3 linked regions of the Homo sapiens genome follow. The protein of the gene in region 3 interacts with the protein of the main gene of each other region in a pairwise test. Each region holds a gene or a part of one and is shown on either strand. Other genes may lie near its edges.

Region 1 (3,126 bases), on a different chromosome or scaffold from region 3:
GGGGGGGACCTGCCAGGGGACCCAAAGACCAACTTGCTGGTGCTCGTCAGTTCAGGGGTGAGCAGGGAGGGGCTCTGGCACAGCCCGGCCAGGGCAGGGGCAGGCCTCTAGGGTGCTGGGGCTCCCTCACCCACCTCTGCAGACCTTGCAGGCTCTCTGGATCCCCAGATCATCAGCCCCCAAGAACCAGCTCCCCCTTCCCTCAGGAACAATGGGGGTCTTCCCCAGGCTCCCTTCCTCCTCCATGACTTTTCCTGATAACCCCCATGACAGGCTGCACGTGCTTTCAGCGCGAACCCTCACAATGCCCTGGGAAGTGGGCGCTGCGACTCCACCAAGATGCTCCAGGTGACCTGCCCAAGGGCTGGAGGCTGGGCCACAGGAAAGGGGGCTGTGGAAGTCAACCATGATCATCATGCCTTATAATATTGGCCAAGATCCCTGGGGAACACGTGGAAGCTCGGGACAGGCAGATCTTCGTTTGGGTGCTCGAAAAGGACAGTGGCTGCCATGTAGTGTCTGGAGGGTAGGCCAGGGTCCATACAGGAGGGGACTGTGCTGGCAGAGGCAGGCCCCAGGTAGGAGGGCTGCACTCGGTGTCTGTCCACGTGCCTGTGTGTGTGGAGGGCATGGCTGGAGGAGAGGAGATGCTCATGGATTTTTTTTTTTTTAAGAGATGGAGTCTAGCTTCATTGCCCAGGCTGGAATGCAGTGGCCCAATCTCTGACTCACTGCAACCTCCGCCTCCCGGGTTCTAGCAATTCTCCTGCCTCAGCCTCCAGAGTAGCTGGGACTACAGGGATACGCCACCACACCCTACTAATTTTTTGTATTTCATTAGAGACAGGGTTTCACTGTGTTGCCCAGGCTGGTCTCGAACTCCTCAGCTCAGGCAATCTGCCCGCCTCGGCCTTCCAAAGTGCTGGGATTACAGGCGTGAGCCACCGCGCCTGGCGAGTTTTCTTTTTTGGAGACAGAGTCTCACTCTGTTGCCTAGGTAGAGTGCAGTGGTGCAATGCTGGCTCACTGCAACCTCCGCCTCCCGGGTTCAAACAATTCTCCTGCCTCAGCCTCCCGAGTAGCTGGGATTACAGGCCTGTGTGCCACCACACCCGGCTAATTTTTGTATTTTTGGTAGAGATGGGGTTTCACCATGTTGGCCAGGCTGGTCTCAAACTCCTAGCCTCAAGTGATCCGCCCGCCTTGGCCTCCCAAAGTGCTGGGATTACAGGCAAAAGCCACTGCACCTGGCCATGGATCTTTTTTTTTTTTTTTTTCATTCGGGTGTTTTGCTGCAAGCAGAGGAAGGGAGGAGGCCCAGACTGGGGGGCACCAGAAATCCCAGGACGGCTGGGGCGTGAGGCGCCAGGTTTTTCAGAGAAAGCCTGGCAGAGCAGAAGTGGGGGAACAGAGGCGGCAGGTGTGCAGCCCTGAGCTGAAGGAAGCTCACCCTCCCGCTGGCTGCTCTCAGGAGCCTGCAGTCACCAGGCCTGAGCCCTGCAGCCCTCCCTCTCCTGCCCTTGACCCCCACCTTCCCTTGGGAATGGCAGCTACCGCCTCCTCCCTCCAGGGCTGCACCATCAGCGCAGCCATCCGAATGGGGATGCGAATTCTCTGCTTGGCTCCAGCCCTGGAGCGGGTCTCCCAGCCTGGAGAGCGTGTCCGAGGAAGGCTTCTTGCAGCCTGCGGGCCCAGCTGCCTCCATCCCTCCCTCACCCTCTCCTCTGCCCCCTGAGGACATTCGCTCAGACTTCTGAGCCTTTGTACCGACTTCCTTCCCTTCCTCCCTCCCAGCTTGCGTCCCCAGCCCTGCCCACTGCACACTGTCCCTGGATGAGGACACAGCTCTGTGAAGGTGGGGACCCAGGCTGACCAATTCACATCCGGCCTTCAGCAGCCAACACAGAGCTTGGCATGTGGGTGGTGCTTAACAGACTGGCTGATGAGACAACGTGCATCAACAAAGGACACCGTAAGTCCTTACCTAATGCTGTCAACAGGCTCTTGGAAACTATGGCTTTAAGCAAAATGACATATGATGAAACCAATTTCACGCAGGTTAATTAACATAAACAAGAGTGAAGTTCCAATGCCATATTTCTGGTACAAACACATCACCAAACTTCTAAATAAGGATGAAAACACTTGAAATATTAAACACTGAAATAAATGTGAGCTATACATACGTTTAAGAAAGATTAGGCCGGGCGCAGTGGCTCACTCCTGTAATTCCAGCACTTTGGGAGGTCGGAGTTTCGCTCTTGTTGCCCAGGCTGGAGTGCAACGGCGCGATCTCAGCTCACCACAACCTCTGCCTCCCGGGTTCAAGTGAATCTCCTGCCTCAGCCTCCCCAGTAGCTGGGATTACAGGCATGAGCCACCACGCCCGGTTAATTTTGTATTTTTAGTAGAGACAGGGTTTCTTCTCTTTTGGCCAGGCGGGTCTCGAACTCCCAACCTCAGGTGATCTGCCCACCTCGGCCTCCCAAAGTGCTGGGATTACAGGCGTGGGCCATCGCGCCCAGCTGAGTCCAGGAGTTCGAGTCCAGCCTGGTCGACATGGCGAAACCCCTTCTCTACAAAAAATACAAAAGTTAGCCAGGTGTGGTGGCATGCACCCGTGTCCCAGCTACTTGGGAAGCTGAGGCAGGAGGATCATCTGAGCCCAGGAGGTCGCTACTGCAGTGAGCCATGATCATGCCACTGTACTGCAGCCCAGGCAACAGCAAGACCCTGTCTTTTTTTTTTTTTTTTTTTTTTTTTTTGAGACAGAGTCTCGCCCTGTCGCCCAGGCTGGAGTGCAGTGGCGCAATCTCGGCTCACTGCAAGCTCCGCCTCCCGGGTTCACGCCATTCTCCTGCCTCAGCCTCCTGAGTAGCTGGCACTATAGGCACCCGCCACCACGCCCAGCTAATTTTTTTGTATTTTTAGCAGGGACGGGGTTTCACCATGTTAGCCAGGATGGTCTTGATCTCCTGACCTCGTGATTCACCCACCTCGGCCTCCCAAAGTGCTGGGATTATAGGCGTGAGCCACCGCGCCCGGCCCTGACCCTGTCTTAAAAAATAAATAAAAAACAAAAAACCAGTAAGACATTTACTCGCTTCCTCCAGCTCAGGGTCCTGG
Region 2 (4,103 bases), on a different chromosome or scaffold from region 3:
TGCCTGTAATCCCAGCTACTCAGGAGGCTAAGGCAGGAGAATTGCTTAACCCAGAACCGGGAGGCAGAGGTTGCAGTGAGCCGAGATCACACCACTGCACTCCAGCCTGGGCTAGAGCGAGACTCTGTCTCAAAAAAAAAAAAAAAAAAAAAAAGAAAAGAAAAAAAAACAGCTAACAGTGTTGGCTCGGAGCTGGAGTGTACCTGGGCTTTAACCTTGGCTCTGCCACGTATTTATCATGTGCTCAGAGACAAGTGACCTAAACTGACTTTACTCAATTTCGTGTCTATAAAATGGGAATAATAATAGGACCCCTCCCATAGGGTTATGAGAACTAAACACATTAATGAATAGCATGCCTAATGAAGTTGTATTATTCTCATTTTATAGATAAAGAAACTGAGACATATAGATTAACCAACTTGCCCAAGATCATTTAGTAGCAGAGTCAAATTCGGTCTATAGAAATCAAAAGTTCATGCTTTTCACTATTGTTACATTGTTTCCAGTATTAGCTGATTCGTTTGTCCATTAATTGGATATTAGCATTTAAATAAAAAGTTGATAAGGAAAAAATAAAAATAAAACATTTTCCTTTGTAAAATTTTCTTCTGGGGGTGCTGGGGAGTAAATTAGCTACAAAATCAATTACAAGGAGAATGATTAAATATAAAGAGTTAAAAACAGGAATATAATTTCCAAGTGCTCTTTTCCAAATATTATCGCTGCAAGGTTTGAACAGGAGAAAGCCAGTAGAGATAAGAAAAATCAAAACTGAATAAACTTGATGTTAAATCAGCTTCTATTTCTTCTTGTCTTTCCTCCCATTTTCTCCAGTTGCCATGCTACTCCTGAGGATCTAGGATAATACTGAAAGAAGCACATATGGGGCACAAGATTTCTAGCACTTTAAAGCTTAATGCTTTAAAAGTATGTTTTGAGGCTTCTTTAAAAGTTTATGGATCTTGCCCAGAGCTGGAGTCGGAGCCCCCGAGGCTGCCGCCGAGAGTGCCCGCGAGCCCGTGGCCCAGCCGAAGCTCTTTCCCGCCGCCTCTCCGCGCCTCGTCCCCGTCCAGCCCCACCCAACCCCCAACCCAGCCTGGTCCCCTGACCCTCAGTCTGGCCCGGTCTGGCCTCCCAGCAGGGTCACGCAACTGCCCCGGGGACGATGAAAGGAGGATAAATGGTGCCCAAGGTGGACAGCGGTGCCTTCCTGCTGCTCTTCCTGCTCTTGCTGTCACTGAGCCGTTGCGGCCAGTGGGGACCCTCTGCTGAGACAGGCTCTGTGTCCAGCACCTGCTCCGGGTCACGCTCTGGGGGAGTAGGAGTCGCACGACTGTCTCAGCCTTGGATTTGACTTTGGCCTCATCCACCTAGGGGCCACGGGAGAACCATGTGGGTTACCAAGTTCAAGGGGAGAGAGAAGAAGCTGATGAAAATAGAGGCTCATCTGGGACTGCCTTCCTTCTCTGGCTCCACCCTTGACTTCTTCAGAGCTTGGGCTTTAAGCCGTGAGCTCCATCTCATTCCCTGGGCCGCAAGAAGCTCACTGGGCCCGCGTCTCTGGAGGCTGTTGGGGGGGCCCTTCCTCTGTCTCCATAGTCGACGGCTTGCTGGGGAAACCCAGGATCTCCGACTGCCTGGACATTTGCATTGCTGTCCCCTCGGGTTTTGTCTCAGGCTGTGCCTGGGGCTGTGCCTCTCCCTCAGGCTCCAGCTTGGTGGCAGACTTCTTGTCAGAGCCAGGTTCGGGGGTCCACAAGGGTTCAGTTCCCCGGGAACTCTCCCCCTCCTTGTTGATGGCCACAGAGGGAGATCCCCGTGCCTTGGGCTGCATCCAGCAGTGGCTGAGGATCTCGTCGATGTGGAGCCGCCGGTTGACGTCGGGCTGCAGCATGTGGTAGATGAGGTCCTTGCACTCGCCTGTCAGGTGCTTGGAGCGTGGGAAGTTGACGCGGTGCTCCTTCTGGATACGCAGCATCTTCTTGATGTTGGAGTCGTCGTAGGGCATGGAGCCGCAGACCATGATGTAGAGGATCACGCCTAGGCTCCAGATGTCGTACACCTTGGGCTGGTAGGGAATGCCCTGCAGCACCTCTGGGGCCGCATACGCTGGTGACCCACAGAAGGTCTTGCTTAATGCCATTCGACCACTGTCATCCCGCAGGCAGCGCTTGGAGAAGCTGAAGTCGGACAGCTTGATGTTGAAGTCCTTGTCAAGGAGAAGGTTGTCACACTTGAGGTCCCGGTGGACGACGTCCAGGTCGTGGCAGTACTTGATGGCCAAGGAAAGCTGGTGGAACTTCTTGCGAGCTTCGTCCTCATGCAGGGCTCCCCGGGTTTTGATTAACTCGAGGAGGTCGCCCTGGACCGCGAGCTCCATGACGATGTAGACCTTGCCATGTGATGTCTCAAAGATCTCGTAGGTCTTAATGATGGAGCAGTGGTTTAACATGGCCAGAATCTCAATTTCCCGGGGAAGGAATTTCTCCAAGAAGTCTGCGGGGGCCTTCTTGCGGTCGATGATCTTGATCGCCACATTGAACTTCAGGCGCTCAGAGTAAGCAGATTTTACTTTTGCATAGGAGCCCTCTCCTAAATTTATCCCCAGGAGGTAGCCTCGTCGCTTGAGGACAGCAGCGTCATCCATGGTGCCAGGAATGCCCAGTGCCTCTGAGGCTGCCCTCTACAGCCCCGAGGCGCATGGGCCAGCAGTGTGCTCATTTACATCCTGGATAGAGAGTCCTTTGGGCTGGCCAGGCCTGCTGTTCCTGCCTCCTAGAGGCCAAGACTCTGGAGTGGAACATTTGGCACTGTCTCCCAGATGACTTCAGCGAGTGAAGTCACAAAGGAGGAGTGCCCTGGGGGAATGAGACCCTGGCCTGAGGCACTTGGACTTGGAATCCTGGAAGGCTGGCCAGTAGGCTGGAGCAGACAAGATGAGCAGAAAGTGGCCTCGTGTCTTGCTGGGACCTGAGGTAGAAGGGGACTGTGTGGGACACATGGGCCTGCCCATGCTTCCAAACCCAGAGCCAGGCATACTTGTGCAGAATTGAGGCCAATTCTTGCAAACCAGGGCATCTGAGGAGGATTTAATAAAGGGACAATTAATAAAGGTGGGAGCAGAGTGTAGGGAACCCTGAGGGTCACACAATTACCCCAAGATAGTAGCAGACCCCTGGCCTGCATAGAAAAGGGTGGGAATGGTCCCTGGAACCCAGAAAGAGTAGTGTAGACAGGACCACCTTGAGAGAGGCAGTGGCCTTCAGGGGAGAAAAAGCCAGCCTCAGTGACCCTACAGGCTGGCAGGGGATGGGAGGAAGTCCCATCCCTGACTTCTTTTTCTCCCCTTCAGCCCTTGATGCTGTCCACACAGGTGACCCTCAGGAGTGCAGAGCAGGGCCAAGAAGAGTGGTGTGTCAAGAAGGTAGACAGCTTCCTGGCCCCGGAGTCACGCAGTTTGAGATGCCTGGATTCTGCCGCCTCCCTATACATCTCTTCCCTTGTCTGAGCCTTTGCTGGCTTCTTACAGCAGCTCTGTAGGAGGACAGCTGGCAGGAGTTCTGCTCTTGGCTGTGAGCTCCCTCCTGGGGACCTGCCCAGCTCACGGCCCTGGCTGGGCTCCCAGGGCATATCTGGGGCTGGGGGCTGAAGGTGGGGCCTGGATGCCACCCTGAGCACTGGCAGCTGCTCTGAGGACATTACAAGCAGCAGGGGAAGCACTGGACAGCAACCATCATTTCTTCTGGCAGTGGAGCCTCTGCTGTGACTGGTTCTGTGTCCAGCACCTGCTCTGGGCCACACCGTCAGGAAGAAGGAGTTGCATGACTGTCCTAGCCTTGGATTTGACTTTGGCCTCATCCACCTAGAGGGAGTGAGAACTCCTTCCTCACATGAGCCAGGTGGAACCCTGGGCCCTTCAGGAGTGAGTTAGTAGAGCTGGATGTCGCTCAGGCTGGGTTGGGTCACCACCAGCTGTGGCCCTTCTCCCTTTTCTCTGCTCCTTCACCTTGTTCCCCAACTCTGACTGCCCACTGCCAGTCCTTTGTGCGTGGTTGGTGCTCCTTCCTCCAGACAGCCTCCTTCTCCTTCCTGCTGGGGAA
Region 3 (3,724 bases):
CCAACTCCAACCTCATCCCTGACCCTTCCACCCGTCTCTGTCTCTTTCCCCATCATAACCTATCTCCATTCCCACCTTCAATCCCGCCCAGCCCCCTTCCTACTCATCCCCGTCCCCAAACTTGCCTCCATCACCACCACCCCATCCTGCTCCTTCCTCCTTACCTCATCTCCTCACTCCCACCTCCAACCACACTCCTATCCCCATCTCCACCTCCTGCTCCATTCCTCAGGATGGATCTCCTCCTATGTCACAGGTTCCCTTGGAGTCTAACACCCCTCACCAGCATCCCCGCCAGGTTCTGGGGTGTCCCCCAGGTTGTCTGAGCATTGAGGAAAAGCCCAGAGCCATGCCAATAGACAAAACGAGCAGGACAAGATCATCCCTGGAGCAGCCCTTAGCTTCCTCATCCTATCTGGGCCGTAAAGGCTGGATGCTCACCAAACAGTAAAAATGAGTTCAGATGCAACAAGACAAGTGGAGGGCTGGCGCCCAGACAGACCTCCACACTGCGGGCATGTGGCAGTGAAGCGGGGATGGAGAGACACCCTCATAGAGCCCCAAAGCGGGGCCGGGGCAGGCTTTCTCAGGGGGCTGGGAGCGTAACTGATCCTATCAGGCATGGCGGGCCAAGGAAGAGGGGGCATGGAAGCAGGAGCAGGGATTTTTAGGGTTGATTAGGAGTGCGCATCCCCGGGTCTCTACCCTGCCTGTGGCCCTTGCTTAGTCAGCTCAGATTAATGGGGCCAGGGAGAGAATTCGCTGAATCGTGATCTCTTGGGGAACTTGACTGGAGAGCCAGCTGTGAGTCATGGAGAAAAGGGAACCTGTGCTCTCACAGCTACTCTAGAAGCTTCCAGGGGTAGGCAACCCTCCAGATCCTCCCATCCCCTTCCAGAATGCAACAGAAAGCCCACTGCAAGGTCTGACCCTCGCCCTCCACCCCATGCTCACAGGAGGATGCACTGTCAGTCAGCTCCAAATCCTGCCCTCATACACCCTCCGGGGCCTTCAGGGCTCCCCCCACTGCCTCTGACAAACTACAGCACAGAGACACACATACACACAGAGACACACACACACAGAGACACACACCCAGACACATGCACAGAGATACATACATGCACACACGCATACATATATACATACAGAGAGACACACACAGAGACACACACAGACACACGCGCACGCACACACACAGAATGAGAATGGGGTGCATCCCTGGAACCAGATTGCCTGGAGACAGTTGGAGGTCCCACTTACACTTGTAAATTCCATAGCCATGTCCCGGACTGCACCAGCCCATCAGTCTCGGAAGGCATAGAATGTACATGAGGAAGGACACACACACACACGCACACACACGCACACACACACACACACACACACACACACACACATCGCTGTGATCAGAAAACCCAATTATCAGACTCTGCACTTAGCACCCCTCCTCCACGCAGGCCCAGAGTGACCACAGCAGTCTTCACTGTCAGTGGGGGCAGTGTCCCCAGCTTCCTCTGGAGAGGGTTCCTGGAGCCCACGTTGGGCACCAAGAGCATGTGGCTTCATAGAGGTGGCTCTGCTTCTCTGTGCCTTCCCGCAAGCGTGGTCAATCTGCCTAAAGTGGGAAGGGTTTTGGAGAAAAAATTATTTGGGGTGGCAATGCCAAATCCAGTATGATCTGAGGGTGGTCAAGGGAGAAAGATGGCAGCTGGAGCCAAGGAGCTGGATGGGCTCAGGAAAATGCCCCCAGAGCCTGCCCCTTCTCCAGGGACATGATTAGGTGCTGAGAGCTGCTTCCCATAGCCCCAGCACCTGGAGGAAGGAGCAGCGCACAGATGCCTGCATAGCAGGGAACAATCTCTCCCACTGGTGGGACCTCGGTTTCCCCATCTGTCAGATAAAGAGGGGCTTGGGTGGGAGGGCCTCCCAGTGCACTTCTCACTTCAAGGCTTAGTAAGTTCAAGGAGATAACCACCTGCCCATCCCCTGTGCAAGATGGCATTGGGAGAGGAGGTGCACCAGTATGTATTTGCCTTGTACTAAATCTGTATTATTAGTAGTGGTGGCAGAATTAATATCCTTAATAATAGATTGGTATTAATGAGCAGTTCTGATAATGATATGTACAGAATGTGAGAGGCCCCTGGCCCAACGGACAGTGGGATCCTGGGCCATTTCTTTGCCCCCACTCAGGTGGACAGGCAAAGAGCGAGCGCACCAGCAGGACGAGGGCCCTCTTGACCATCCCCCTGGGGCACACCCCTAGGAAGGGCAGATGTTTGAAGGTAAAAAGATCTCACTCAGCCCCATCCCACTCCTGAAATCCTACAGGCCTGGGACCCCAGGGGAGGAGGCAGGGGCACCAGACAAGCTGGTGCTGGTTTAACTTCTGAGGATTTTGACATTCTGGTTCTCACTCGGTCCCCAGGACAGCCAGATGAGGTATGTAGGGCAAAGATGAGGACTCCATTTTATAAAGGAGGGAACAAGGTTTATTCTCATGACTAGCCCACACCGAGAGCAGAGCTGGGAAAGGACCCTCCTGCAGTCCTTGGTCGGGAGGACTCACTGTGAGGGAAAAGGGGGATTCTGTAGGGAAGCCAGGATCTGGGCTCAGTGAAGGCGTCCAGAGATTATAACGCCAGGTTACGGGGGAGGTGAGACCAAGCTCCAACATCCCTGTTGGTCTCACAGATCAAATCCTCTGCTGCCAATCACTGCCACAGCCCAACAACTCCAAAGCCAATTACCTACACAGCCCACAGGAGGCTGGGGGTGGGACCATCGGGCTCAGCCCTGGGTGACTTCATTACAGGGGTAGGACTTCCGGGCCACAGGGACCCAGAGCTAATGAGTGCTTAGAGGTCAGCCACTTCATCCCATACCCCAGCCCATTTCTCCATCCCCTTCAGCCAGTGTAGCTGGAGGAAGCTTGTTGAGGAGGGATGAAGGCAAGGCTTCACAATCTGTGCAAAAGCCTCCTGGTCCTTCACTCATGCCCCACCTCATCAGCCATTCTTTGGCCCTTATCACAGCTGGGCAGACTGAGGATTTCAGGGAACTTTCTTCTCTAGAAACCAATGTCTAAGGCCTCAGATCACTGCTTTCTGAACACTGCCCCCTGGAAGGATCAAGCAGGCAACAAGTTCCTCCTTCTCAAAAGTCCAGCTTTCCAGTCAAGCCCTGAGTGGTTCTAGGCCACCTTGTCCACCTCCAAGTCCTAGGTCAGGCCAGTTCTCACCATCAGACTCAGCCATGGCTTCAAAAAATCCCTGGGAATAGGTGAGCACCGTGGCATGCACTTTTAGTCTCATATACTCCAGAGGCTGAGGCGAGAGCCTAGGAGTTTGAGACCAGCCTGGGCAACAAAGCAAGACCCCATCTCTAGAACCTGGGGAAGGTGGAGGTGGGAGAACCTTCTCCTTAAACTGCCTGTCCAAGGGGGTTTTATGTTTTTGGAACTGGGAATTCCCCTCCCCCACTAACCTTGGCGGGGCAAGCTTGCTGACCTTGCTTCTGGGAGCAAGATGTTGGGGTAGGCTCCCAGCCTCAGAGCCTGGACTCCAGAGTAGCCAGGGAGGCAGGAGGGTGGAGGAGGCAGACCATGAATGACACCCACAAGTAAGAGCAAAAGATCCCTGGAGGCCGAGGATGCTTAGGTGGGAGGTCTCTGTCAAGGAGCATCTAAGGAGTAGGAAGAACCCAGTAGGGCTGATCTCTC

The links.
Region 1: the proteins of FOXN1 (region 3) and TRAPPC6A interact in binary tests that used the Homo sapiens proteins (3 or more experiments, as listed by UniProt).
Region 2: the proteins of FOXN1 (region 3) and TSSK1B interact in binary tests that used the Homo sapiens proteins (3 or more experiments, as listed by UniProt).

Annotation. Positions count from the first base shown.
Region 1 is NC_000019.10:45,165,256-45,168,381, forward strand, and holds part of TRAPPC6A (trafficking protein particle complex subunit 6A), read right to left. Parts: intron 1-3,126. UniProt on the Homo sapiens protein: May play a role in vesicular transport during the biogenesis of melanosomes.
Region 2 is NC_000005.10:113,432,190-113,436,292, forward strand, and holds TSSK1B (testis-specific serine/threonine-protein kinase 1), read right to left. Parts: upstream 2,801-4,103; 5' UTR 2,651-2,800; coding exon 1,547-2,650; 3' UTR 364-1,546; downstream 1-363. UniProt on the Homo sapiens protein: Testis-specific serine/threonine-protein kinase required during spermatid development. Phosphorylates 'Ser-288' of TSKS. Involved in the late stages of spermatogenesis, during the reconstruction of the cytoplasm.
Region 3 is NC_000017.11:28,509,215-28,512,938, forward strand, and holds part of FOXN1 (forkhead box protein N1), read left to right. Parts: intron 1-3,724. UniProt on the Homo sapiens protein: Transcriptional regulator which regulates the development, differentiation, and function of thymic epithelial cells (TECs) both in the prenatal and postnatal thymus.